Homo sapiens: one gene and its partners. Each later gene encodes a partner of the first gene's protein in a complex. Each region holds a gene or a part of one and is shown in the gene's direction. Other genes may lie near its edges. The genes, in order: HDAC2, MTA1, DNTTIP1, CHD4, CHD5, SAP130 and CIRSR.

Region 1 (3,500 bases):
TCAAATTTTAAAATCATTAGGCATGTTACCCTTTACGTTTAAATGTGGTAACTAACTGCTTAGTGCATTTGTATGAGTATGCTGTAATGATTATAAAACCTGTGACTGTTTTTGTCAAAATTTATTAAAATATTCTGTGCAGTTCGAGCATCAGACAAGCGGATAGCTTGTGATGAAGAATTCTCAGATTCTGAGGATGAAGGAGAAGGAGGTCGAAGAAATGTGGCTGATCATAAGAAAGGAGCAAAGAAAGCTAGAATTGAAGAAGATAAGAAAGAAACAGAGGACAAAAAAACAGGTCAGATTTGTTTCTTGGTAATTGTGTTTTAATTGTAAATTTTAAAAATTGGGCTGCATTATAATGTTTATGCTATCGAGAAGTCAGTTGCACAGGTATCAGGAGGAAGTATGCTAGGTAGGTGACTCTTTTTTCTTACATATAAGTGGTACTTAGCTCTTAAAGCTTTTATATAAATGTTATTGTTCCTATTTGCTTTAGTAATACAGGAAACCTTATTTTCTTGATAACATAGGTTTAAAATAGTGAACATTGCATTGTGATATAGATTGGTTAAGAAAGAGGACAAAGTAATTATGAATCTATTGGTAGTGCATGGTCAGAACTGAACTTCTAAGGTAATTTTTAGCTACCTAAAGCTTATTTAATGGGAGAAAACACAAAGAAGAGTTACATATCCTTAGACCAGTTTTGCCATTTTGAAAAAGGTCAAATAATGGATTTTGTTCAGAAATTGAAGAAAACATTAAAAACTCTGAGGAAAGCTAGGAGGGGATTTGGGACCTGGGTTAGGGAGGAAAAAATACTTTGATACATTGCCTTACTTTAAAACGCTGTGTTAGCTTTAGGCAATTGAATTTGCTACCGGAATCTGTTACCTTTCATCTGACTTCCCAGAACACTTACACATGCCTCTGCCATTTTATTTAACACATCATATTATAGCACCTCACAGGATTTTGTCTCCCTACTAGACTGAGCTGCTCATGGCTAGGGAACACAGTATCTTAAATATTTGTATTCTCAGCACTTGATGCATTTCCTAATGCAAGTAATGGTGATGAGCACACGTTTTAGTTAACCTGTTAATTTTGATCCTGTAGTATGTGAAAAACTGATTTAGAGATAATGATCCAATTTTTCCTATGTCTATCAAATTGAAGTTATGTGAATAAGCCAGCTTTTTTTTTTTTTTTTAAACTAGAGAGTTAGTAATCTATAACATCTGACACATTTAGTTCTGTTCTTTTACTTGTGGATTCACTCCTCAATAGGCTACATACAGAAATTTATAATTTTAACTTCCCAATGTATTACAATGATGGCTTCAGTCTATATTTGTAACTGATTGACATCCAAAAATTCAAGCCATGACTGAATTAAGGACGACTTAACTTTAGCTGTAGGATTTTCCTAACTTTTTTTCTTTTCTTTCATTTTCACTATGTTTTCTTGTCTGTCTGTTTTTGGTGTTCTCATTTTTAAAAGCTTTATCTTTTCTGTGCTTAAAAAATAAACTCTCTATTTGGTGATGAGGCTCTTTCGATAGGGCCTTGCAGTTGTTAAAATTCTTCAGCCTACTGAAAAATGAAATACTACCACAGAAAGCTTTTTTTAAATCTATAGGTCAAAACCTAGAGTTAGGGCCACCTTTTCTCCCTCTGCACCCCAATCCAGTGACTATTCATAGCTTGTACTGCCATCGTTTAGGAAACACCCAACACAAAGCTTATTTAGACCGAATTCATTAATAATAAGATTGCATAACTTTTTATATTTTAAAAATAAAGTATATTTTGAAATAATATATATACATTTTATATTTCAAAATAGGTTTTAATCTTTTCCCAATCTTTATTTTTAGACGTTAAGGAAGAAGATAAATCCAAGGACAACAGTGGTGAAAAAACAGATACCAAAGGGTAAATGATGTTCCTTATCAAGTACTTTTTACATACTATAAAAATACTAAACATGTTTATTGGTGTGTGTTTGTGTACACACTTCAGAAATACTAGACTGAACCTTAGAACATCATTATGAGGTGCTCTGAATTTTAGTTTGTATTGGTACATAAGACAACATATGCCATCTTACCTATTGGTTTATCAGTATAACTATATCAGTCAGTTTGTATTCTTGTACGTAGTTTATCTGAGACCCTTTTTTGCTGTTATCTTTTATATATGCACTTAATGGTTTTCATGGTGTTCTTATTTCTGTGTACATGATTTTTTTAGTGTTGTGAGATAGGTAAATTTAAGAAACAATTTTAAGTAAAAACAGTTGAGGATTTTAGTGTCAGAAAGCATGTAAATGTTTGGGCACACATAATTTTGTGCCAGCCTTTACAGGATAACTTGGAATAGTTTATTAAATCACTAGAAAAATTAAGGCATTAATTACTCCAGAAACACTTAAGACATTATCAATTAATGTGTTTCTTAGCATGAGCCTACAGGACCTGATCAATATAATAGGTCAGTGCATTTAAACCAAGATTGTGCCATTTTTAATATTTCACATTGCCTCTTTTAACAGAACCAAATCAGAACAGCTCAGCAACCCCTGAATTTGACAGTCTCACCAATTTCAGAAAATCATTAAAAAGAAAATATTGAAAGGAAAATGTTTTCTTTTTGAAGACTTCTGGCTTCATTTTATACTACTTTGGCATGGACTGTATTTATTTTCAAATGGCTTTTTCGTTTTTGTTTTTCTTGGCAAGTTTTATTGTGAGTTTTTCTAATTATGAAGCAAAATTTCTTTTCTCCACCATGCTTTATGTGATAGTATTTAAAATTGATGTGAGTTATTATGTCAAAAAAACTGATCTATTAAAGAAGTAATTGGCCTTTCTGAGCTGATTTTTCCATCTTTTGTAATTATCTTTATTAAAAAATTGTACTTGGATTATCTTTTGTCTGTTTATTACTACAATATGAAGTCTTGTTTCAGTGGCTAATGACATCATTTCTGTAGACTTACAATACACTCTAGGTGAAAGATAATGATTACAGCTTGAAAGATAACTATTTGCTGTTTCTTTGGGAAGAGTATTTATAGTAATTATTACTTATCTTTGCAATAGAAATTCTACCACCTTGCCCTCTATAGCTTAGCCAGTTAGTATCAGTGAAGATTAACATCCCATTACAATTTATGAAATAATACAGACTCTGCAATTGAGATGTAGGAGTTCTTTGAGTTGACCCAAAGATTCTCAAAATTGAAATGGAAATTCTGAATTGAAAGAAGAAACTGACCAGAACTTGTATTGACCAGACTTGCCTATAGTATATTGCTGGTTTAAAATGGAACCTGCAGACAAAACCTGTTTCTTTTACTGCATTTACATGGCATCCAGGTTCCATTATTATTTACGTGACATCCAGGTTTCTAACTCAAGGAAATAAACACAACTGATTTATCATTCAGCAACTACTTATTGTGTGTCTGCCCATTTTAAGACTGTAGGAGT
Region 2 (3,201 bases), on another chromosome or scaffold:
TACCTGCCCATCAACAGCGCGGCCATCAAGGCCGAGTGTGAGTCACCCCAACGCCCCGCTTACTCTGTTCCTGCGGGTGGTGGGGAGAGAGCAGCAACCTTGGGGCCCAGCCTGTAGCCCCACTGGGAGTTCTGATCTCAGGGAGCCCCACGTCCTCCTCGGTGCTGACATGGCCGAGCCCAGTGAGGGCTCCCAGGTCAAGGCGCAGGCAGGGTCCCGTGCTCCCCTGGGGGTGCCCCACCCCTCACACCGTGTGGTACCCCGCAGGCACGGCGCGGCTGCCCGAAGCCTCCCAGAGCCCGCTGGTGCTGAAGCAGGCGGTACGCAAGCCGCTGGAAGCCGTGCTTCGGTATCTTGGTGAGCAGCCAGGCGTGCTGGGGGGCTCCCAATGCTGCCTGCAGGCAGCTTCTCACCCAAGCTCATGCACTGGTGCTCCCAGCCTTCTCTAGCTGGGAGCTCCTGGACAGCCCCCCAGGGCCTGGAACTGTCCTTTTGGGGTACTCTGCACCGTGCCAGGCTCAGGCAGACCCACTGGGACCCAGGCTGCTCCCTGCTCCTGGGGTCGTGATGGGGCCCAGTGCGGAGTAGCGGCCGCCCTGTCTTCTGCGGGGCCAGCCTCCTCAAGGCACACCCGGGGGCTTCCCTGCCAGTCTCGCTACCCTGTTCCCTGTGTTCTGATCGTCCCTGGGGCCTGAGGGTCTGGGGTTTAGGTGGTGCACACCCCTGCCTGTAATACCATTAAGGCAGCGTCGTACCTGCTGCCTGCAGGGAGTATACTTCCTGAGCCACGCCCACTCCACAGGGGCAGCACTCAGGCCTCTGCACGCCCTCGGCAGGGGGAGGAGCAGCCTCAGGCGGCAGGGGGTTCCTTTGCCTTTGAGCATCTGAGGACACCCGAGAACCTCAGCCGGCTACCCTGGCCCAGCTGGAAGCAGCTTGGTGGCTGGGCCAGACATTTGTGGTGGCGGTGGGGGGCCTCCTCCATTTGCTGGGCTCGAGTGGGCTTGTGCATCTGCCCTCCCGACACAGGGTGACTGTCCTGAGAAGGACATTCCAGAGTCATGAGCCAAGTGTGCTCTGAGATTCAAGTGGCTTTGGCATTGCTCCCTGTTTGGGGTTGTGGCCCCTGTCCTGTGGGAAGAGGTGGCTGGTGTCAGGGCTGGTCCTCAGCAGCTGTGTCCCTGGCCAGGCTGGCTGGATGGTTGGTTCGCTGTCTGACGAGCAGCCAGCCCTCCACCAGCAGCTCCGGGGGCCTGGACGTGGGGGCTGTTTAATAGGCGTGCTGTGCTCACGGGCCTGTGTATGGATCCTGTTGTCCCGGGGCTGAGGGGCCTGGCCCCCGCCAGGTGGTCTCCCTGCTCTCTGGAAGCCCTGGGGTGCGGGACTGGCCCGGGCACACGCCTTGCCGAGGGCTTCTGGGCTTCTGGTTCTGTGGTGACCTCCCCACTTCCAGCCCAGTCAGGATGGGGCCTCGGGTGGGGGCCGCATGGGGCTTAGTTCCTGGGGGTATCCCGGAACCATGAGGGCTGGAGCCTGGGCCTGCCTGCCCCTCCCCTGCTGGGCAGAGGCAACTCGTTCTGCCTGTGTCATTCCCGGCAGAGACCCACCCCCGCCCCCCCAAGCCTGACCCCGTGAAAAGCGTGTCCAGCGTGCTCAGCAGCCTGACGCCCGCCAAGGTGGCCCCCGTCATCAACAACGGCTCCCCCACCATCCTGGGCAAGCGCAGCTACGAGCAGCACAACGGGGTGGACGGTGAGTGGCCCCCCCGCCCGGTGAGTGTGGCCCTCCCCGCCCGGTGAGTCCGGCCCGTCCCCGCCCGGGCACCCGCCGTGCGTGCTGACGCTGTCTTCTCTCCCTCTCTCCCACCCCGGCGCTGCCAGGCAACATGAAGAAGCGCCTCTTGATGCCCAGTAGGGGTAAGGCCTGGAGCCGCGGGCGGGCGCTGCGCCGGCCCCGCCCGTGATGCCTGTGCTGTGCTGCTCTGTGTCCCCGCGGCGGGCGGCCCAGGGCCCATGCTTGGGGCAGTCCACGTGAGCCAGGCCACAGCCCAGTTCCCCACATTCCTCCCGACATCACTGGTCCCTTGGTGAAGACCCCCCGAGCCCAGGCATCTGGCCCTCGGCCCCCTGGCCCCGCCTCCTGTCAGTGGACTGTCCTGGCACGTGTGGCCCTGGCGCCCCTGCCTGCGCTGTCTGCCATCGCGCTGTGACTGCCCGCATGCTGCCAGCCTCAGCTCGTGGGGCCGCCCGTGCTGTGCCTGCAATCCTTCCGTGCGCCTGCCAGGCGGGACAGTGGGGAGGGTGGTCGGGGGTGTCTGTGTGGGCCGTGGGCAACTGAGCTTGTACACATGGGTGCCTTCTGTCGGAGGACTGGCTCAGGTGCTCTGTGCCGGTTGCTTGGAGCAGGGGCTGCGGGACCCCAGGCCCCTTGGGGAAGAGCAGATAGGACCAAGCCTAGCATGAGGAGGCCAGGTGTGTGGGGCCCGGGTGTGCAAGTGCTGGGCCTGCCAGTGTGGATGTGCCTGGAGCCCCTTCGCCAGGCGGCTTTCACTGACGGTGCTGGCCAGGGCAGCAGGGCCGGTTTGGCGACCTGGAGGTGGATATGGGTAGTGGCTGCCCAGCCCAGCCAACCCTGTCCCCTTGGGGCATTCTCTCGAGGCTGCTGGGTGTCCTGGCAGGCACGTCCTGTGGGGTCAGCACGCCGGCTGCAGCGCAGGGTGGGCCTGAGATCGGGTGCCGGGCCCCCCATCTCCACCTGTCTGGACACGCACCCCTGGCCTGTCCTTGCAGCTTCCTCCCGACATCCCTTGGCGGTGTCTGTGTCTCGGCCCCAGCCCCAGCCCTCCTTTCCTGGGGCACCCTCCCAGCCATCTGGTATTGGGGCTGCCCCCATTGCCTAGTCCTGGGCCCAGGGCCAGCCCACTCTGGGCTGGCTTTACTTGTCTGTTCCTAATGGCAGGGCGTCCCAGGAACAGCCCCATAAGAGCTGGTAGAAACAGGAGGGAGTCCTTGTCAGCAGGCATCTTCGAGCTTTTTGTTTTGTTTTGTAAAAAGCGGTTAACCAGCAAGTTACATAAAAGCTTATTTGTTCCCACTGAATTTTCCACACCTCACACGTGAGTCCCAGCCATGCAGTGCTTGTGAGGGAGCATCACCCCTTGCCGCCTGGCTGGGCGGGGCCCTGGGCTCAGAGGGGTCAGCC
Region 3 (3,500 bases), on another chromosome or scaffold:
GAGTAACCACAGGGTCAGACCTCTGACAGCTGTTTTTTGTGGCAGAGGAAAGGACGGCCTCCTGGACACATCCTGTCAAGCGACCGGGCAGCCGCCGGCATGGTGTGAGTAGGGACCAACAGTGTGGTGAGAGCATAGGGGAGCAGACGGAGAGAGGGGCCCTGAAGGAAAAGAGTCCAGGGTTCTGTGCCTGTCAAAATCAGATCCATCAGCTTAAGTCATCGTGGAGGGGGGTTATCCTGGTTGGAGGGGTGAGGAAGGAGGGTAGTGAGGAGGAAATTGTTTTACCCCCTGAACGGTTTGGCCCAGCTTGATGAAAGATTAAACTCCAGAGGTTTGTCATTGTTAGTATATATTGGATGCTTATGACTGGTCTAAATACGTTACATACTTTACCTTTTAATCTTTATAGCCACCCTGTAAAGAAGATATCATTAATTTTTCAGATAACAGACTCAGAGAATTACTTGCCTAATGTCATATCGTTAACATTGCCTCCAAGACGGTCATTTTCAAATATATATTTTTTTAAGACTTAATTTTTTTAGAGCAGTTTTAGGTTCACAGCAAAATTGAGAGGAAGGTACAGACATATCCCGTATACTCCCTGACCCTACACATGCACAGCCTCCCCCATTATCGACATCAGGCACCAGAGTGGTACATTTGTTACATTTGATGAGCCTACTTTGACTCGTCTTGATCCTCAGAGTGCATAGTTTCCATGAGGGTTCACTCTTGGTATTGTACATGAACTTAGACAAATGCATAGTGACAGGCATCCACCATTCTAGTATCACACTGAGTGCTTTCAGTGCCCTAAAAATCCTCTGTGTTCTGCCTGTTCATCCTTCCTTCCCCCTCAACCAACCCCCAACCCCACTTTTTAAAAAAAATTCTGAAGCAGCAGAATCTTTTTCAAACAAAACTTTACATGGGAGCCCAGTATTTAAATCAAATAAAGCCACACTGGTCTGGTTCAGGGGCGTGGGGTTAGTTTGGAACAGCTGGCTTAGTAGATGGGCTAGTATTAACTGTCATACCTTAGATGTGTCTCCTACACGAAGCAGTTTTATTCCTCACAAACACAAGATAGGTAGGGCAGTTGCTGTTTTTGTCTCTTTTGACAGATGAGAAAACTGCCACTCAGAGGTTCTTGGAGTTGCTCATGCCACTATGTAAGAGCAGAGCTAGTGCTAGAATGGCTTCTAGTCCAGTGCTTTTTTTCCCTTTGTTCCTCCTCTTATGTGTCACCACGAAGGAGGATGTCCAGGGCTAAAGTGAGAGTGTGTGAGGAACTCCTACCACCACCAGCAAGCTGGCATTTAGTCCTAGGTCTCACCTTGGAGAATTCACCTTTATTCTTTCCTTCCAAGCAGATGGAAACCAAAATCCTGTGAACCAATTCGCCGGGAAGGCCCCAAGGTATGATTATGTGAGCATGGCAGAGATCACGATCCCAGGAGATAGTCCCACTATCTCTAGGACCCACCATGAGGGAAAGGGGCAGGGGGCGAAGGGTGCATGCACACCATTCCAGAGCCATCTGCCCCTCTCCACCTCCAGCCACACTGGCCTCAGAGAGGATCCTGTGTAGGAATTGGAGTTAGAGGCAAAACAAAGAGAGGGCTTGAGTCTTTGCTGAAGCCTTCTCCTTATAGGAGTTAGTGGTCACTAATACTGATTCAATACTTAGTATGTAACGGGCAGTGTCCTAAATCTTTTGTGTAGACCATCTCATTTAATCTTTATAACAAACTTATGAGATCAATTCTGTGAACCATTCTATAAATGAGGCGTTTCCTTTTCTGCCAGCTTCCCTGTGGGCATAAATTATTTTATTCAGTTGTCTTATACACTTAATGCACTTAAGACTTGCCCAAAGTCACATAACTCGTAAGTGATCGAGCTGAGTCTCAAACCCAAGACCCGCTGACACCAGAGTCTGTGCTCTCAACCATTAGCCTCTGTTGCCTCCCTCTCTCTCCTGAGTTCTTCCTCAGCAGTGACTTATATAAATGGTTGTTCCCCAGAATTCTCTCCTTGGCCCACTTCTCCATCTAAAGTAACTCTCTGGATAATCTAAAACATATACTCTTATGGTTTCAGGGACCACCATGTTCTAAAACTCCCATACCTCTTTGTCCATCCCATGCCTCTTTCTACTTTAAAACTTGTTTATCCTACTATCTGCTTGACCACTCTGCTGGAAGTTTCATAGGCATTTCAGACTCAGCATATCCAAACATGAAATTAGAATCTTTCCTCACAGCCCTTCTTTACATTCGTTATCTTAATCATCTTTGCCTCCTCCTCCTCTTCCTTACCTCCCTACACCCAGTCGAGTCCTGGACAATTCTTCCTCTTAAATATATTGCAGTTCCTATTTCCTTCTGTTCATCCTTACTGCTGCCCTAGCTCAGGCCCTTAGCAGCTTTCCAACTGCTTTATCACAGCGGCCTCTAAACTGCTCTCCCTGCCTGTAGTCTTGCCCCTTCAAATCCATTATCCACATTGCTAGAAGACTAAGCTATCTTTAAAGGAAATCTGACTCTCACTCCCTGTTTAGAGGCCTTCAGCGATTCCCCATTGCCTACAGAAGAAATAAAATGCAGTCCCCTGAACATAACCTCCTAAGACCTCCAACTCCTCTGTGTTTCTCTCTCCAGCCCCATCAGCTGCCACTCCCTAATTTGTACTCTCTCTGTTAGCAGCACAGAATTACTAGTAGTTTCTCCAGCAGGCCAAGCTGCCTCTCACCTGTCTTTGCTCATGCTGCCCCCTGTCTGGAATGCCCTTGTTCCTGACCCCCTTTACCCCAACTTGTGCTCACCCTTTCAGAATTAACTTGGGAAATGCCTCTCTAAGGAAGCCTTCCTGGCTGGACCCTCCCCTCGGCAGCCCTCAGACCCTGCACTCACTTGTGTCCTTGCCTCATCGCACAATGGTGTAATTATCTGTACATATGTTGGTGGCATCCTAGAAAACAGAGACTGTATCTTATTCATCTCTTTATCCCCAGTATCTAGCACAGACAGGGCCTAGCATATTGTGAGTACTCAGTGTCTTGGGTCAACTGTTGATTAAATAATAGACAAGGGGAAGGGTTAGAAAAGGGTAGGGGGAGGAGTGTTTCTGTCCTACCCATCAGATTAAACTTCACCCTCACGAGCTTCTCTATTTTTTGCACAGTGGGACCCAGCTCGCCTGAATGAATCTACCACCTTTGTGTTGGGATCTCGAGCCAACAAGTAAGTTTAAGAGCTTTGGCACTGATTGAGGAAACAGCTCAGGAGTTCACTAGTAGGACTACACTTTCTGGAATCTTGACCACTTGGCTTTTACTTTTCAGAGCCCTGGGGATGGGGGGCACCAGAGGAAGAATCTACATCAAGCACCCACACCTCTTTAAGGTAGGTGACTGCTGGGAGGAAAGCAGGCCATTGCATTGGGAGTAGACTGGGAACTCCACTCAGCACAGAGAAGCTTAGAACAAACAC
Region 4 (3,500 bases), on another chromosome or scaffold:
TGGGCAACAAGAGTGAAACTCCGTCTCAGAAAAAAAGTATATAAAGACTTAATGGGAGAGGTAAGACTTGTAGTTATGGTGGGACCTTGGGTTTTTGGAAAGGAGTGGGCTGGGCACTTGTATAGAGGAAGGTGAGAGCAGGAGCAGCAGCGCAGGTGTGTCAGTCCTTGGCTCAGCTTGAGGGGGCAGCAGGGTGGTGGGTGTTCGCTGGGGTTGCAGTGTGCTGGGGCCCTCAGTCCTGACTCTCCTCTTTTTTCTCAAAGGGTCATTCCAAAGGCCCCTTCCTAGTGAGCGCCCCTCTTTCTACCATCATCAACTGGGAGCGGGAGTTTGAAATGTGGGCTCCAGACATGTATGTCGTAACCTATGTGGGTGACAAGGACAGCCGTGCCATCATCCGAGAGAATGAGTTCTCCTTTGAAGACAATGCCATTCGTGGTGGCAAGAAGGCCTCCCGCATGAAGGTATCTCAGGGGAGGGAAGCCACCCTAGAGAAAGAGTTGTGGCTTCTGGCTTAGTTTACCTCCTTGTGATCTGGTCCCTGGTGAGGCAAAAGGGTAACCCTGGGAGGAGGAAAACATTCCATCAGTCTCCTGGTTGTGCTTACACAGAGGAACTGACTAGTAGTGACCAAGTTGCCTTCATGTGCAGAAAGAGGCATCTGTGAAATTCCATGTGCTGCTGACATCCTATGAATTGATCACCATTGACATGGCTATTTTGGGCTCTATTGATTGGGCCTGCCTCATCGTGGATGAAGCCCATCGGCTGAAGAACAATCAGTCTAAGGTGAGGGCTGAGGGAGGGATGTTGGAGCCCCCACTTTGGGTTTTTTCTAGTACTACCAATTCATTAAGGGGAAAACTTGTAGATGGAGAGGAGAGGGGAAAATTGTCTCTGCCTTCCTTCCTTGTATGTGACAGCCCTTGGTGGCCAGGCCTTTAAAAAGAATGTGAGGAGTGGGATGCTTAACTATTGGGCAGTGAAAAACTTGAAATTTTGTAGAGATTTGCTAGAGCTCTGTTTTCATTGGATTTCACCTTTCTCCATCTGCTTCACCAGTTCTTCCGGGTATTGAATGGTTACTCACTCCAGCACAAGCTGTTGCTGACTGGGACACCATTACAAAACAATCTGGAAGAGTTGTTTCATCTGCTCAACTTTCTCACCCCCGAGAGGTTCCAGTAAGTATGTGTTTATCTGTAATCGGCTCATAATTGTGCCTCTCATTCTTCCTGTTGCCCATTTCCTGTATCACTTTTCTTTCTTCCTTTCTCCTTCTCCAATAACTTTTTTCCTTTTTCTTTCTGAAGCAATTTGGAAGGTTTTTTGGAGGAGTTTGCTGACATTGCCAAGGAGGACCAGATAAAAAAACTGCATGACATGCTGGGGCCGCACATGTTGCGGCGGCTCAAAGCCGATGTGTTCAAGAACATGCCCTCCAAGACAGAACTAATTGTGCGTGTGGAGCTGAGCCCTATGCAGAAGTGAGTTGGGAGGGACAGAAGCAGACTCCATTTAGACATCTGCCAGTCTGCAGAGTGTTTCCTATTCCTCCCCCACTCAGCTTCAAGGCATCTGGTGACAGGAGCAAGCAAGGCCTGAAGAAACCTGATGCTAGGGCGCTGGAGCGCATAGTTCTTACTTATTTTAGGTTATACCTTTCCTTATTTAAAATGGTGGTGGTGGTAGTGCTTGTGCGTTAGGTGTCCTTAGTTCCAAAGTGGGATGTGTTGGAAGAAAGATCTCAGTTGTTGGCACTGCATTATTAGTCATTGAAAGGCTCTCAAGTCTAACCTGTCTTTCTACCTTGCCCATGTAGGAAATACTACAAGTACATCCTCACTCGAAATTTTGAAGCACTCAATGCCCGAGGTGGTGGCAACCAGGTGTCTCTGCTGAATGTGGTGATGGATCTTAAGAAGTGCTGCAACCATCCATACCTCTTCCCTGTGGCTGCAATGGTATGTAGTGCCATCTCCTGTTCCTCCCTGGGTTGGGTCTTCTCCATGTGGGCTTTCTTTTAATACTTTTTTCTTTGCATTTGTTCTCAGGAAGCTCCTAAGATGCCTAATGGCATGTATGATGGCAGTGCCCTAATCAGAGCATCTGGGAAATTATTGCTGCTGCAGAAAATGCTCAAGAACCTTAAGGAGGGTGGGCATCGTGTACTCATCTTTTCCCAGGTATCATGTGGACTGGGAGCTTTAGGGAACAGTCATAGACAACCCTTAGTGACCTAAGGAAAGGGATTACCATCTGACTCTTCCATAATTAAACCGTGCTTCTTTTGCAGATGACCAAGATGCTAGACCTGCTAGAGGATTTCTTGGAACATGAAGGTTATAAATACGAACGCATCGATGGTGGAATCACTGGGAACATGCGGCAAGAGGCCATTGACCGCTTCAATGGTGAGAGAGAAGGAGTTGTTTAGTTTCAGGAATCCTCATTTGCTTATATCTTTGGACTGTAACTTCTTGTGCATCTCCTTTTCTGTGTAGTTCTTTTGGGACTTTGTCATTTGAGATGGAGTAAAGCTTTTGAATGTCTCAATTGGACGAATGTATTGGACTATTCCTAGGAGATTTTTTCTTTTGGGGTATTTGTTCTTTCTGCTAGAAAGAAGAAAGCATTGTATCTCGAGGGCAAGCAAAGGGTCAGGACTTGTTCAAGCTCAAATAGCAAGTTACTAGCAGACTTGTCTGCCTCAGTAGACGCTACTAGGTTTTTTTTTTTTTTTTTTTTTTTTTTTTTGAGATGGAGTCTTGCTCTGTCGCCCAGGCTGGAGTGCAGCGGCACGATCTTGGCTCACTGCAACCTCCGCCTCCCGGGTTCAAGCAGTTCTCCTGCCTCAGCCTCCCAAGTAGCTGGGACAACAGGCGTGTGCCACCACGCCCAGCTAATTTTTGTATTTTTAGTAGAGATGTGGTTTCACCATGTTGGCCAAGATGGTCTCGATCTCCTGACCTCATGATCCGCCCACCTCGGCCTCCCAAAGTGCTGGGATTACAGGCACGAGCCACCACGCCCAGCCTGTTTTGTTTTGTTTATTCGAGATAGGGTCTCACTCTGTTGCCGAGGCTGGAGAGCAGTGGCACAATCATGGCTTACTACAGCCTGGACACACCCCCAGGCTCAAGTGATCCTGCTGCTTCAGCCTCCCAACTAGCTGGGGCTGTAGGCTTGATCCACTGTACCTAGCTAACTAAAAAAATTTTTTTGTAGAGATGGGGTCTTGCCATGTTGCCCAGGCTGATCACAAAGTTCTGGGCTCAAGCAATCCTCCTGCCTTGGCCTCCCAAAGTATTGAGATTATAGGCATAAGCCACTGTGCTCAGTATCACTACTCCTTGTTTAAAAAAAAAAAACTTTTTATTTTAATTTTAGACTTAGAAAAAAGTTGCAAAACAGCAGAGAGAGTTCATGTATACTGTTCAACTAGCTAGCTTCTCTTAATAATAACTTACGTAACTGCAGTACAATGATCAAAACTAGAA
Region 5 (3,500 bases), on another chromosome or scaffold:
CCTGCTGGGGATGGGAAGGGCCATTGTTGGGAGTCTGTTCCTGGGACCCCGGGGCTGGACCAGGGCAGTCTTTGTCCTCACACTGCATTTGCCTGCTCCCCAGGTGACAACAAGGACGTGGAGGACAGCAGTGTGATCCACTATGACGATGCGGCCATCTCCAAGCTGCTGGACCGGAACCAGGACGCTACAGATGACACGGAGCTACAGAACATGAACGAGTACCTGAGCTCCTTCAAGGTGGCGCAGTACGTGGTGCGCGAGGAGGACGGCGTGGTAAGGTCCCCGGCCCGCCCTCCATCCGCAGCCCCGCCCTCCATCCGCAGCCCCGCCCCCCACTGTGTCCACGCCTTCCACTGTGACCCCGCCCTCCCGCCGCAGCCAGCCCTCCAAGCTGTGACCCCGCCCTCCAGCCGCAGCCCCGCCCTCCCTGCTGTGCCCCGCACTCCAGCGTGTGCTCCGCCCTCCAACCACGTGCTCCGGCCTCTGCAGGGCGGCCCTGTCGCTCCACCCGCGGGCTCAGGACTAGAGACACAACAGTGAGGGAAGGGACGGAGGCAGCGCTGAGGGCAGTACAGCCACATGGGCCGGCCACTGCCCTTGCACACATCAGCCGCCTGCTCCGTGGCGTCATCCCGGCTCCAGTCCAGCTTCCCCACTCTCTGAAGTGCAAGCTGATCTGCCACCCCGTTGCACAGAGCCCTGTCCCCGGGGTCTGGTTTCAGTCCCTACCCAGCTGCACCCTCCCGCCCCTTCCTCAGGGCCTGCATCTCGGCCCTGCACCTGGACCGCCAACGTTCCAGGACGGCCCACAATTTTCTTTTTTTTTTTTTCTTGAAATGGAGTCTCGCTCTGTCGCCCCGGCTGGAGTGCAGTGGCGCAGTATCAGCTCACTGCAACCAACGCCTCCCAGGTTTAAGTGATTCTCGTGCCTCAGCTCCCAAGTAGCTGGGATTACTGGCATGCACCACCACGCCTGTCTAATCTTTGTATTTTTAGTAGAGATGGGACTTTGCCATGTTGGCCAGGCTGGTTTTGAACTCCTGACCTCAGGTGATCTACCTGCTTCGGCCTCCCAAAGTTCTGGGGTTAAGGAATGAGCCACCACGCCTGGTCCACCCCACACTTTTCTCCCTTCTCTACCGGGCAAACCCCAGCTGTCCCCGAAGAGCTCCTTGTGGGTCTCTCCTGGAGGCCTTTCCGTTTCCTCCTCTGCTCCCCACCCTCCGTGCAGACCTGGTGAGCCCATGACCTTTTCCTTTGAAACCAGGAGCCTCCTGAGGGCAGGCAAGGGGGAGCTTATTCAACTCAGTACCTCAGTGCTTGACAGGAGGCGAGGAAATACTTGCTTTGTGAATGGATGGATGAATAAGTAAATGATTGACTGGATAGGGGCAGGGAGAGAAAAGCTAGCTAGGGCCGGGGTGATCAGAGAAGGCTTCCTGGAGTAGGCAGGCCATCCCATTAATCCTTGAGCCCTGAGGGGGCAAAGGGCAGGTCAGGTGGAGGCAGCCTGAGGCTTCCGGGAGGGCAGAGATGGCTCCACCCATGGAACCCGTGGTGCTGCGTCCCCAGGAGGAGGTGGAGCGGGAAATCATCAAGCAGGAGGAGAACGTGGACCCCGACTACTGGGAGAAGCTGCTGCGGCACCACTATGAGCAGCAGCAGGAGGACCTGGCCCGCAACCTGGGCAAGGGCAAGCGCATCCGCAAGCAGGTCAACTACAACGATGCCTCCCAGGAGGACCAGGGTGCGTGCCGGGAGGGAGGGACTGGTGCCCCTCACCCAGAGGCGGAGGGTGGGGCAGGATTCTGTCAGGGCATCCCTGTGCAGAACCCCCGGGAGGTGCGGGCCGGGAGAGCTGGGCGAGTGTGCCAGGAGGGATGGGTGTCCCATACCCAGAGGCGGAGGGTGGGGCAGGATTCTGTCAGGGCATCCCTGTGCAGAACCCCCGGGAGGTGCGGGCCGGGAGAGCTGGGCGAGTGTGCCAGGAGGGATGGGTGTCCCATACCCAGAGGTGGAGGGTGGGGCAGGATTCTGTTGGGGCATCCCTGTGCAGGACCCCCCCGGGAGGTGGGGGCCAGGAACGCTGGGCGGCGCTGGTTGGAGCTGGGAGGCAGCTTTTTGGAGGAAAGGGGACTGGGGGCAGGTGCAGAGGTGCTGGGTGTTTGGGGGAACAAGGTGTGGCTCAGTTCAGTGACTTCACCACTGCTCGTGACGTGGCCTTGGGCACGTCCCTTGCACACAGTATGTGTAATGTGTGGGTACACATGGTACCCTTAGTGTATAACGTGGTGGTGTTGGGATTACTAAATGAGCCCACAGGAAGTATGTGGGCCATTGTCACTGCTTTTTTATGGAGCTGGGGTGCAGGGGCTCGGCGTGGCCCTGGGCATGCTTGAACTTGAGGGTGGGCTTTGCTTGTACAGCTCACTCCGTGCCCCTCTGTCTGGCCCCCTGCAGAGTGGCAGGATGAGCTCTCTGATAACCAGTCAGAATATTCCATTGGCTCTGAGGATGAGGATGAGGACTTTGAAGAGAGGCCGGAAGGGCAGAGTGAGTCTCAGTGTTAGTGGTCTGGGCTACTGCTGAGGCCATGTCAGGGGAGCTGATGGCAGCAGGAGCGGGGCTGGTCTGGGGTCCCGCTGTCCTTGGGGATCAGGAATCTCTGGGCTCCCACCTGAGGAACTGTGGCGGGCTGCTCCCCAGGTGGACGACGACAATCCCGGAGGCAGCTGAAGAGTGACAGGGACAAGCCCCTGCCCCCGCTTCTCGCCCGAGTTGGTGGCAACATCGAGGTGGGGCCTGTCTGTTCCCGCATCTCTTTCTGCCCCTGCTTCCTGCTGCCCCTGGGGTATGGAGGAGGGCTGGGGGACTGCCCCGGGTCTCATGCCAGGTAGAGGCGGAGCTTGGACAGAACTTGGTCTGGTCTTCGCCGTCAGGGTCCTGCCCCAGGTGGAGGCCCCTGCCTTCTCTGTGCCCCCTTCCTACCTTCTCCTCCTCCCATGCTTTTCTTCCCCCATCCCAGAATCCTCCACCCCCACCCCTCTCTGTCCTGGGCTCATACTCCCACGCTCCACTCGCCCAGGTGCTGGGCTTCAATGCCCGACAGCGGAAGGCCTTTCTGAACGCCATCATGCGCTGGGGCATGCCCCCGCAGGACGCCTTCAACTCCCACTGGCTGGTGCGGGACCTTCGAGGGAAGAGCGAGAAGGAGTTTAGGTAAAGGGGCTAGGTGGTGGCCCAGGGTGTGACCACCTGCCCCTGAGTAGGGCAGGGTCCTGCGGGTGAGCCCCACAGAGGGCAGCATTTGCTTCCGCCAGGATGAGGCCGTCTGGAAAGTTCACTGCCACTTGGACTTTGGGTGGCTAGAGTCCTGGTGCCGGGCAGGGCTGATTTGCAAACACTGACCATCCGCCCCTGCCCAAACCAGCTGGTGTTATGGCAGCGAGGAAGATCCCGGTCACCCAGGGCTGTCCTAGGAGGTCCCCTCGCCAGGG
Region 6 (3,500 bases), on another chromosome or scaffold:
CCAGCACTTTGGGAGGCCAAGATGGCTGGATCACCTGAGGTCAGGAGTTCAAGACCAGCTTGGCCAACATGGTGAAACCTCGTCCCTACTGAAAATATAAAAATTAGCCAGGCATGGTGGTACACACCTGTAATTTCAACTATTCAGGAGGCTGAGGCAGGAGAATTGCATGAATCCCCGGGAAGTGGAGGTTTGCAGTAAGCCGAGATCATGCTACTGCTCTTCAGCCTAGGTGACAGAGTGAGACTCCGTCTCAAAACACACACACACACACACACACACACACACACACACAGACACACACAATACAAAATTAATTCACACAATATGAAATTAATTTACAGAAAAGCAGGAGTGGCTATATTAATGTCACATAGAGTAAAATTCTGAGGAAAGAAAATTGCTAGAGACACAGAGGGATATTACATACTGATAAGATAATCGGCTGACCAGGTAATGATCCATTTCTCTGCAGTGTCTTTTAAAATATAGGCAAGGACATTCCAAATTTATTTTATGAAGCCAATATTTTCATGCTATCAACACCAGACAGAGTGTACAAATATAGAAAATGACAGATCAATATTCCTCATGAATATAGATGTAAAAATGCATTAATAAAATATTAGCAAATCAGATCCAGCAGTATATACCTTGACCAAGTAGAATTTTTTCTTGCTGTGCAAAGCTGGTTCAACATTTGAAAACCAAAGTAATCCACCATATTAACTGGCCTTATTAATTTCCTAGGGTTGCCATAACAAAGTACTGTGAACTGGGTGGCATAAAACAGTACAAATTATTCTCATGGTTCTGGGGGCTAGAAGTCCAGAATAAAGGTCTGATAGGATCATGTTCTCTGTGAAAGCAGTAGAGGAGAATCCTTCCTTGTCTCTTTGGTTTCTTGTGATTGCCAGCGATCTTTGGTGTTCCTGGCTTGCACCTGCACCACTCCAGTCCCTGCCTCCATCTTCAAATGGCATTCTTCTCTGTGTCTCTCTGCCTCTCCCATCCTCCTTTCTCTCTCTCTCTCCTTCTCTCCCCTTCCTTTTCTCTCTCTCTCTCTACTTCTCTGTCTCCCTCCCTCCTTGTATGGACACCAGTCATTGGATTTACAGCTCACCTTAATCTAGTATGACTTCTTAACCAAATTACCTTTTTTGTTTGTTTTTTCTTGTGACGGAGTCTCGCTCTGTCCCCCAGGCTGCAGTACAATGGTGCGATCTTAGCTCACTGCAACCTCCGCCTCCTGGGTTCAAGCAATTCTCCTGCCTCAGCCTCCTGAGTAGCTGGGATTATAGGCGCCCACCACCACACCCCGCTAATTTTTTGTATTTTTAGTAGAGACAGGGTTTCACCATGTTGGCCAGGCTGGTCTCGAACTCCTGACCTCAAGTGATCCACCTGCCTCGGCCTCCCAAAGTGCTGGGATTACAGGTGTGAGCCACTGCGGTCAGACTACATTACATTCTAATATAGTTATAGTCACAGGTACCAAGGATCTTCAACATGTCTTTGGGGGGAAAACCATTCAACCCACAACAAAAGCTAAAGAAGAAAAATCACATGATTGTATCAATCAATATAGAAAATTTGACAAAATTAAACACCTTTTCATGATAAACAGTGTTCAAAAACAGAAAAAGAAGGGTTCTTCCTTGATTTGATAAAGTTGTTCTGCCCTTGGAAAGGCTCCCCCAGCTGTCTTATGCTTTGTTCTTTCCTTCAAACCAGCCTGCACATAGTCTAGGCTATATCTTCATTAGTTCACAAATCTCCCCCAATTCCCTTTGCCACAGCCTCCACTGTTATGGGGAGCACCTTTAGGTTTGAACTTCTTCACACTCTTGCAAATGGACTCACTTCCTTCAGGAAGAAATTAGAAGGTATCTGTTTTACAGCCCACTTCTTCCGGCAAAATGTTTGAACCAGGGCCTTAGAGATGGGGGAGGCCCTGGCTTGACACGTGGCAAGCTTCTCTCTGAGTGACAGCCCTGCTTTAGGAGGTAGCACTTAGTGGAGGTAAAGGAGGGGAGTAAGCAGCCTGGTGTCCTCTTGGCTTGCCTCTCCTAGATGAAACCATTACCTCAAATAAAAAAGTTCTTATGGCCAGGTACGGCAGCTCATGCCTATAATCCCAACACTTTGGGAGGCCATGGCAGGCAAATTGCTTGAGCCCAGGAGTTCAAGACCAACCTGGGCAACATAGCAAGACCTCATCTCTACAAAAAATACAAAAGTGAGCCCAGCATGATGGCGCACACCTGTAGTCCCAGCTACTTGGGAGGCCGAAGTGGGAGAATCATTTGAGCCTAGGAGGCAGGGGTTGCAGTGACCTGAGATTGTACCACTGCACTTCAGCCTGGGTGACAGAGCCAGACACTGTCTCAAAAAAAAAATAAAATTCTTGTTAAAATAATGGCATTTACACTGCTCGAACACAAATCATTTACCTTTTTAAACACTGAAATACATGTATTTTTATTTTTTATGGTTCCAGAGGAGAAGAAAGCTATGCTGCAGGAAATAGCTAATCAGAAAGGAGTATCCTGTCGTGCTCAAGGCTGGAAAGTCCACCTCTGTGCTGCCCAGTTACTACAGCTGGTAGGTGGAGTTCTAGCAGTTGTTCATCATGCTGAAGAGAGGAGAAGACACTGCAGATAGCTGAGTTCATAGAACTTTTTAAAAGTAACTCTGAAGCATTCCCAGCTAACATGGGTTATGATAGAATTTTTATGTGTGCTATGTAATATCACACTGTGTCAGTTACATGTGATTAAAATTGAAATATATCTAAGTTCTGGTATCCAGATCCAAAATATATGGAACAACTGTGGTGTAAGACCTAAATTTAAGATTCAGTGTTATGTGATATTGTGACATCTGAAATAGGGGGAGCCTCAAACGGCCTAACCGAGAGTCCCTCCTCCCAACTCTGCTCCCTCAGATGAAGTCTCCTAGGCAAACAACCCTTCATACCACAGGGACCAGGCACACAATTCCTGCTCCTTGCTGAGTAGTAGGCTCCAGTTCCCTGCCAGCTTCCAGTATTCCAATTTCCAATGTTACTCAGATAAGCCAGTCACACACATCATCATTCAGAGACCGGGGCATACCTCTCCCTCTCTCCTGTTCTTTTTTTTTTTTTTTTTTTTTTTGAGACAAGGTCTTGCTCTGTTACCCAGGTTGGAGTGCAGTGGCACGACCATGGCTTACTACAGCCATGATCAACCTGCTGGGCTTAAGTTAATCCTCTCACCTCAGCACCCCCAAACAGCTGGGACTGCAGGTGTGAGCCACTGCACACAGCTGATTTTTTAAAATTTTTTGTAGAGGCCAGGCACGGTGGCTCACATCTGTAATCCCAGCACTTTGGGAGGCCGAGGTGGACAGATCACGAGGTCAGGAGTTCGAGACCATGGCCAACATGGTGAAACCCCTGTCTCTACTAAAAATACAAAAATAAGCTGGGCGTGGTGGCAGGCGCCTGTAATGCCAGC
Region 7 (3,500 bases), on another chromosome or scaffold:
AAGATAATTCTTGATAAGTCCCATTAGACACATATCTCCCTCCTGATCACATACTCTAACTAGTGTCTAACTGTCCTTTTTACATTTAGTGACAGGGACTGGCTTATTCGCTAGATATAGCCAATTTAACTTTAGGAAAGAAAAAGGGACAGAAGATTGTACTTTCTTTCATTTGTGATAATGTTGGGGTTTATTTTAAAACAACTTTTATGGTTATATTACTGTTAGTTTGACTGCAATAAATACATGGGAAAGTGATTACAAGAACATACAAGTAGTCTTGGCCTCCTTTTTCTTTAGCTAGAAACATGTTTTAATTAACCAGAAGTGTATTTTCAGGTGTCATTTTCCTAAATCCAAACTTTACAAAACTTGCCATATATTCCCCCAAAGTATGTGGTATAAAATATCAAAATAATTTAATAATAAGCCTCTAGACTTAACTACCAATTTATAGGAAATATAAGAGCTAGAGAAACATGTTAAATGGCATCACTGTCCAGAATGTGGGAAATCTACAGGACAAATTACCCAATTTCTTTAACAAATGAATAACAATAGGGAGGGGAAGATAGGTAAATGTTTTAGATTAAAAGAGATCTATAAATCAAATACAATATGTGGACCTTGTTTGTATCCTAATCTGAGCAAACCAACTGTAAAAAGATACTTTTGAGACAGTTTGAGAAATCTGAATGTTGACTATTCGATGACATTTTAAAATTATCAATGTTGAGAAGCATAATAAAGGTATTGAGGTTGAGATTTTATTTAAAATATTCTATGAAAAAAATAAATTTGGAAGTAATAGCTAAGACAAGAATGACAAAATATTGTTAATTGTTGAAGCTATGTGATGTAGGTTTGCAATTTTCCGTAGTATAAAGTTAAATTAAAACACACACACAATGAGAAGGGAAAAAAAATAGATCATCACTGTAATAGGAAGCAAAACTATATTCACTTTAGGGTAGCAATTTAGTTTCAGCCAACAGTGGCATCCTATAAATTAAGTACATAATATATTAAATTTGGGAGAAGGAGAGACAGGCCAGTCAGTCAGTCTGTCCTCTTTCCTTCCCCTTCCCCTTCTTCCTTCCTTCCTTCTTCCCTCCCTCCCTCTTTCTTTCTTTCCTTTCTTTCTCCTTTCTTTCTTCCTTTCCTTCCTTCCTTCCTTCCTTTCTTCTTTCTTTCTTTCTTCCTTCCCTTCTTCCTTCCCGTCTGTCTTTTTTTCTGTCTGTCTTTTGACAGGATCTCACTCTGTTGCTGAGGCCGGAGTGCAGTGGTGAGATCACAGGCTCACTGCACCCTCAACCTCCTGTGTTCAAGTGATCCTCCCACCTCACCCTCTCTAGTAGCTGGGAGTATAGGCATGTGCGCCACCACGGCCAGCTAATTTTTGTATTTTTTGTAGAGACAGGGTCTCACCATGTTGCCCAAGCTGGTCTTGAACTCCTGGACTCAGGCGATCCACCCGCCTCTGCCTCCCAAAGTGCCGGGACTACAGGCATGAGCCACTGCGCCTGGCCAGGAAAGGCATTTCTAATTCAGCCTTACCTAACCTACAACTCACTGCCCCCTTTTCTCCTACTTAATACCATAAAATTGTAGGTGATAATGCATTGTTTGAAAAGAATGATGGGCCAGGTGTGGTGGCTCACACCTGTAATCCCAGCACTTTGGGAGGCCGAGGTGGGTGGATCACGAGGTCAGGAGATCAAGACCATCCTGGCTAAAGAAAAGAATGATGAACTTCGAATGGAGCAGATGGACCTAGTGTTTGCAGTGAAACACAAGTGTCTTTGACTTCAGCTTTAGTCTCCCTCCTATGCCATTTGTGGCATTCCCCTGGGACTGCCATACTATAATTGTGGAGTCAGTTGTATGCCATTTCCTCATAGCCAGAACTTTTGAGTTTATATATTATTCTTTGATAAAATACCTATTTTACAACAGGACATTCTTTTTTTACCTTTCATTGTTTTTGTTCTGTAAAAATGAATACTCTTAGTGAGTAGATTAAGCGCTTTACACACATAATTTTGTATAGCATAATTTACCTTCTAGGAATTTTTTCTTTCCTGAGACTCGATTTCATGGTATTTTTCTAGTAGAGCCTGGGTCTAATCAGAACATGGAACTGTACACAATTGGTATTTTGATACTTATCCATATCACAGCAAAGAAAAGTTTGTAAAATAAATGAATGTTGAAAGCAGTTTCTTCAGTGGACCTGCTTTTCTAAGTGGGAACATTGGTTTTCAATGCTGTGAAGGCTTGGCTGAGATGATCTAGAAAGGAGCCCTCACAAATCTGCATTTTAGAACAAATGCCTTCTTTCTGAATTCTCTAGTATTATTCTACCATGACAAATTTAAGAATAAGCCAAACAATTTTTAAGATCCAACTCCAGCTATAATTGAAATTATTAAGGCACCATACATAAAAGTAGTTATTTTACATTTGAACATATTTGTGTAATCTATTTTATCAACGTATCTGTAATCATCTATTTTATCAACCAAATTTTGAGTTCTCAAAAGATCTGGAGTCATTTCTGTCAGTGTAACTCTACGTAGCCTCTGTCATAATAATGTGAAAGTAGAAAGATACTTGCTAAATATATCTTGATTAAACCTGACTTGTTTCATCTCCTAAACCTAGAACTTTAAACTCAGAACTTTGGTTGATAGGAGAAGGTTTAAGTATAAAAAAAATGTGAATAAGACTGCATTGTGAAAAGTATTACTACTAAGAGCATTTTTTTGTATTATGAAAAGTACCGTAAGATAGTCATGGAATTTGGATAGTGGCCGGGTGCAGTGGCTTACAACTGTAATCCCAGTACTTTGGGAGACCTAGGCAGGTGTATTATTTGAGCTGAGGCATTCAAGACCAGCCTGGGCAACATGGCAAAACCCTGTCTCTACCAAAAAAAAAAATATATATATATATAATATATATACATATGTAAAATATATATTATATAATATATATTATATTATATATAATATATGTATTATATAATATATAAAATATATAATATATATTATATAATATATAAAAATATATAATATATATTATATAATATATAAAATATATAATATAATATATATTATATGATATATATAATATATAATATAATATATAAAATATATATAATATAATATATATTATATAATATATAAAATATATTATATGATATATATAATATAATTTATATAATATAATATATATTATATATATTTTATATATTATATTATATAATATATTATATATATCATATAATATATATTATATATAATATATAAAATATATATGTACATATATAAGTAATATATGTACATATATAATATATCTTATAAAAAGACAATTTCTTATATAAGAAAGTTGAATAGGTACTGGTAAAAATAATAGTTGTTACTCTTTATTAAGTACTATTTGTCGAGCACTTCACTAAGCACTCTATTTACAGTCATACATTGTGAAAGTGTGCTAAA

The links.
Region 2: HDAC2 (region 1) and MTA1 share a complex: the UniProt entries of both Homo sapiens proteins name them as parts of the nucleosome remodeling and deacetylase (NuRD) repressor complex.
Region 3: HDAC2 (region 1) and DNTTIP1 share a complex: the UniProt entries of both Homo sapiens proteins name them as parts of the histone deacetylase complex.
Region 4: HDAC2 (region 1) and CHD4 share a complex: the UniProt entries of both Homo sapiens proteins name them as parts of the nucleosome remodeling and deacetylase (NuRD) repressor complex.
Region 5: HDAC2 (region 1) and CHD5 share a complex: the UniProt entries of both Homo sapiens proteins name them as parts of the nucleosome remodeling and deacetylase (NuRD) repressor complex.
Region 6: HDAC2 (region 1) and SAP130 share a complex: the UniProt entries of both Homo sapiens proteins name them as parts of the mSin3A corepressor complex.
Region 7: HDAC2 (region 1) and CIRSR share a complex: the UniProt entries of both Homo sapiens proteins name them as parts of the histone deacetylase complex.

Annotation. Positions count from the first base shown.
Region 1 is NC_000006.12:113,940,149-113,943,648, reverse strand, and holds part of HDAC2 (histone deacetylase 2), read left to right. Parts: intron 1-142; coding exon 143-298; intron 299-1,883; coding exon 1,884-1,941; intron 1,942-2,560; coding exon 2,561-2,591; 3' UTR 2,592-3,500. UniProt on the Homo sapiens protein: Histone deacetylase that catalyzes the deacetylation of lysine residues on the N-terminal part of the core histones (H2A, H2B, H3 and H4).
Region 2 is NC_000014.9:105,464,827-105,468,027, forward strand, and holds part of MTA1 (metastasis-associated protein MTA1), read left to right. Parts: coding exon 1-37; intron 38-267; coding exon 268-357; intron 358-1,599; coding exon 1,600-1,752; intron 1,753-1,880; coding exon 1,881-1,916; intron 1,917-3,201. UniProt on the Homo sapiens protein: Transcriptional coregulator which can act as both a transcriptional corepressor and coactivator. Acts as a component of the histone deacetylase NuRD complex which participates in the remodeling of chromatin.
Region 3 is NC_000020.11:45,801,954-45,805,453, forward strand, and holds part of DNTTIP1 (deoxynucleotidyltransferase terminal-interacting protein 1), read left to right. Parts: intron 1-45; coding exon 46-104; intron 105-1,379; coding exon 1,380-1,425; intron 1,426-3,192; coding exon 3,193-3,251; intron 3,252-3,352; coding exon 3,353-3,413; intron 3,414-3,500. UniProt on the Homo sapiens protein: Increases DNTT terminal deoxynucleotidyltransferase activity (in vitro). Also acts as a transcriptional regulator, binding to the consensus sequence 5'-GNTGCATG-3' following an AT-tract.
Region 4 is NC_000012.12:6,590,380-6,593,879, reverse strand, and holds part of CHD4 (chromodomain-helicase-DNA-binding protein 4), read left to right. Parts: intron 1-263; coding exon 264-464; intron 465-651; coding exon 652-789; intron 790-1,062; coding exon 1,063-1,184; intron 1,185-1,313; coding exon 1,314-1,487; intron 1,488-1,822; coding exon 1,823-1,964; intron 1,965-2,054; coding exon 2,055-2,186; intron 2,187-2,296; coding exon 2,297-2,414; intron 2,415-3,500. UniProt on the Homo sapiens protein: ATP-dependent chromatin-remodeling factor that binds and distorts nucleosomal DNA. Acts as a component of the histone deacetylase NuRD complex which participates in the remodeling of chromatin.
Region 5 is NC_000001.11:6,124,822-6,128,321, reverse strand, and holds part of CHD5 (chromodomain-helicase-DNA-binding protein 5), read left to right. Parts: intron 1-103; coding exon 104-276; intron 277-1,575; coding exon 1,576-1,750; intron 1,751-2,463; coding exon 2,464-2,556; intron 2,557-2,709; coding exon 2,710-2,798; intron 2,799-3,088; coding exon 3,089-3,222; intron 3,223-3,500. UniProt on the Homo sapiens protein: ATP-dependent chromatin-remodeling factor that binds DNA through histones and regulates gene transcription. May specifically recognize and bind trimethylated 'Lys-27' (H3K27me3) and non-methylated 'Lys-4' of histone H3.
Region 6 is NC_000002.12:127,944,560-127,948,059, reverse strand, and holds part of SAP130 (histone deacetylase complex subunit SAP130), read left to right. Parts: intron 1-2,500; coding exon 2,501-2,604; intron 2,605-3,500. UniProt on the Homo sapiens protein: Acts as a transcriptional repressor. May function in the assembly and/or enzymatic activity of the mSin3A corepressor complex or in mediating interactions between the complex and other regulatory complexes.
Region 7 is NC_000002.12:174,354,213-174,357,712, reverse strand, and holds part of CIRSR (corepressor interacting with RBPJ 1), read left to right. Parts: intron 1-3,500. UniProt on the Homo sapiens protein: May modulate splice site selection during alternative splicing of pre-mRNAs. Regulates transcription and acts as corepressor for RBPJ. Recruits RBPJ to the Sin3-histone deacetylase complex (HDAC). Required for RBPJ-mediated repression of transcription.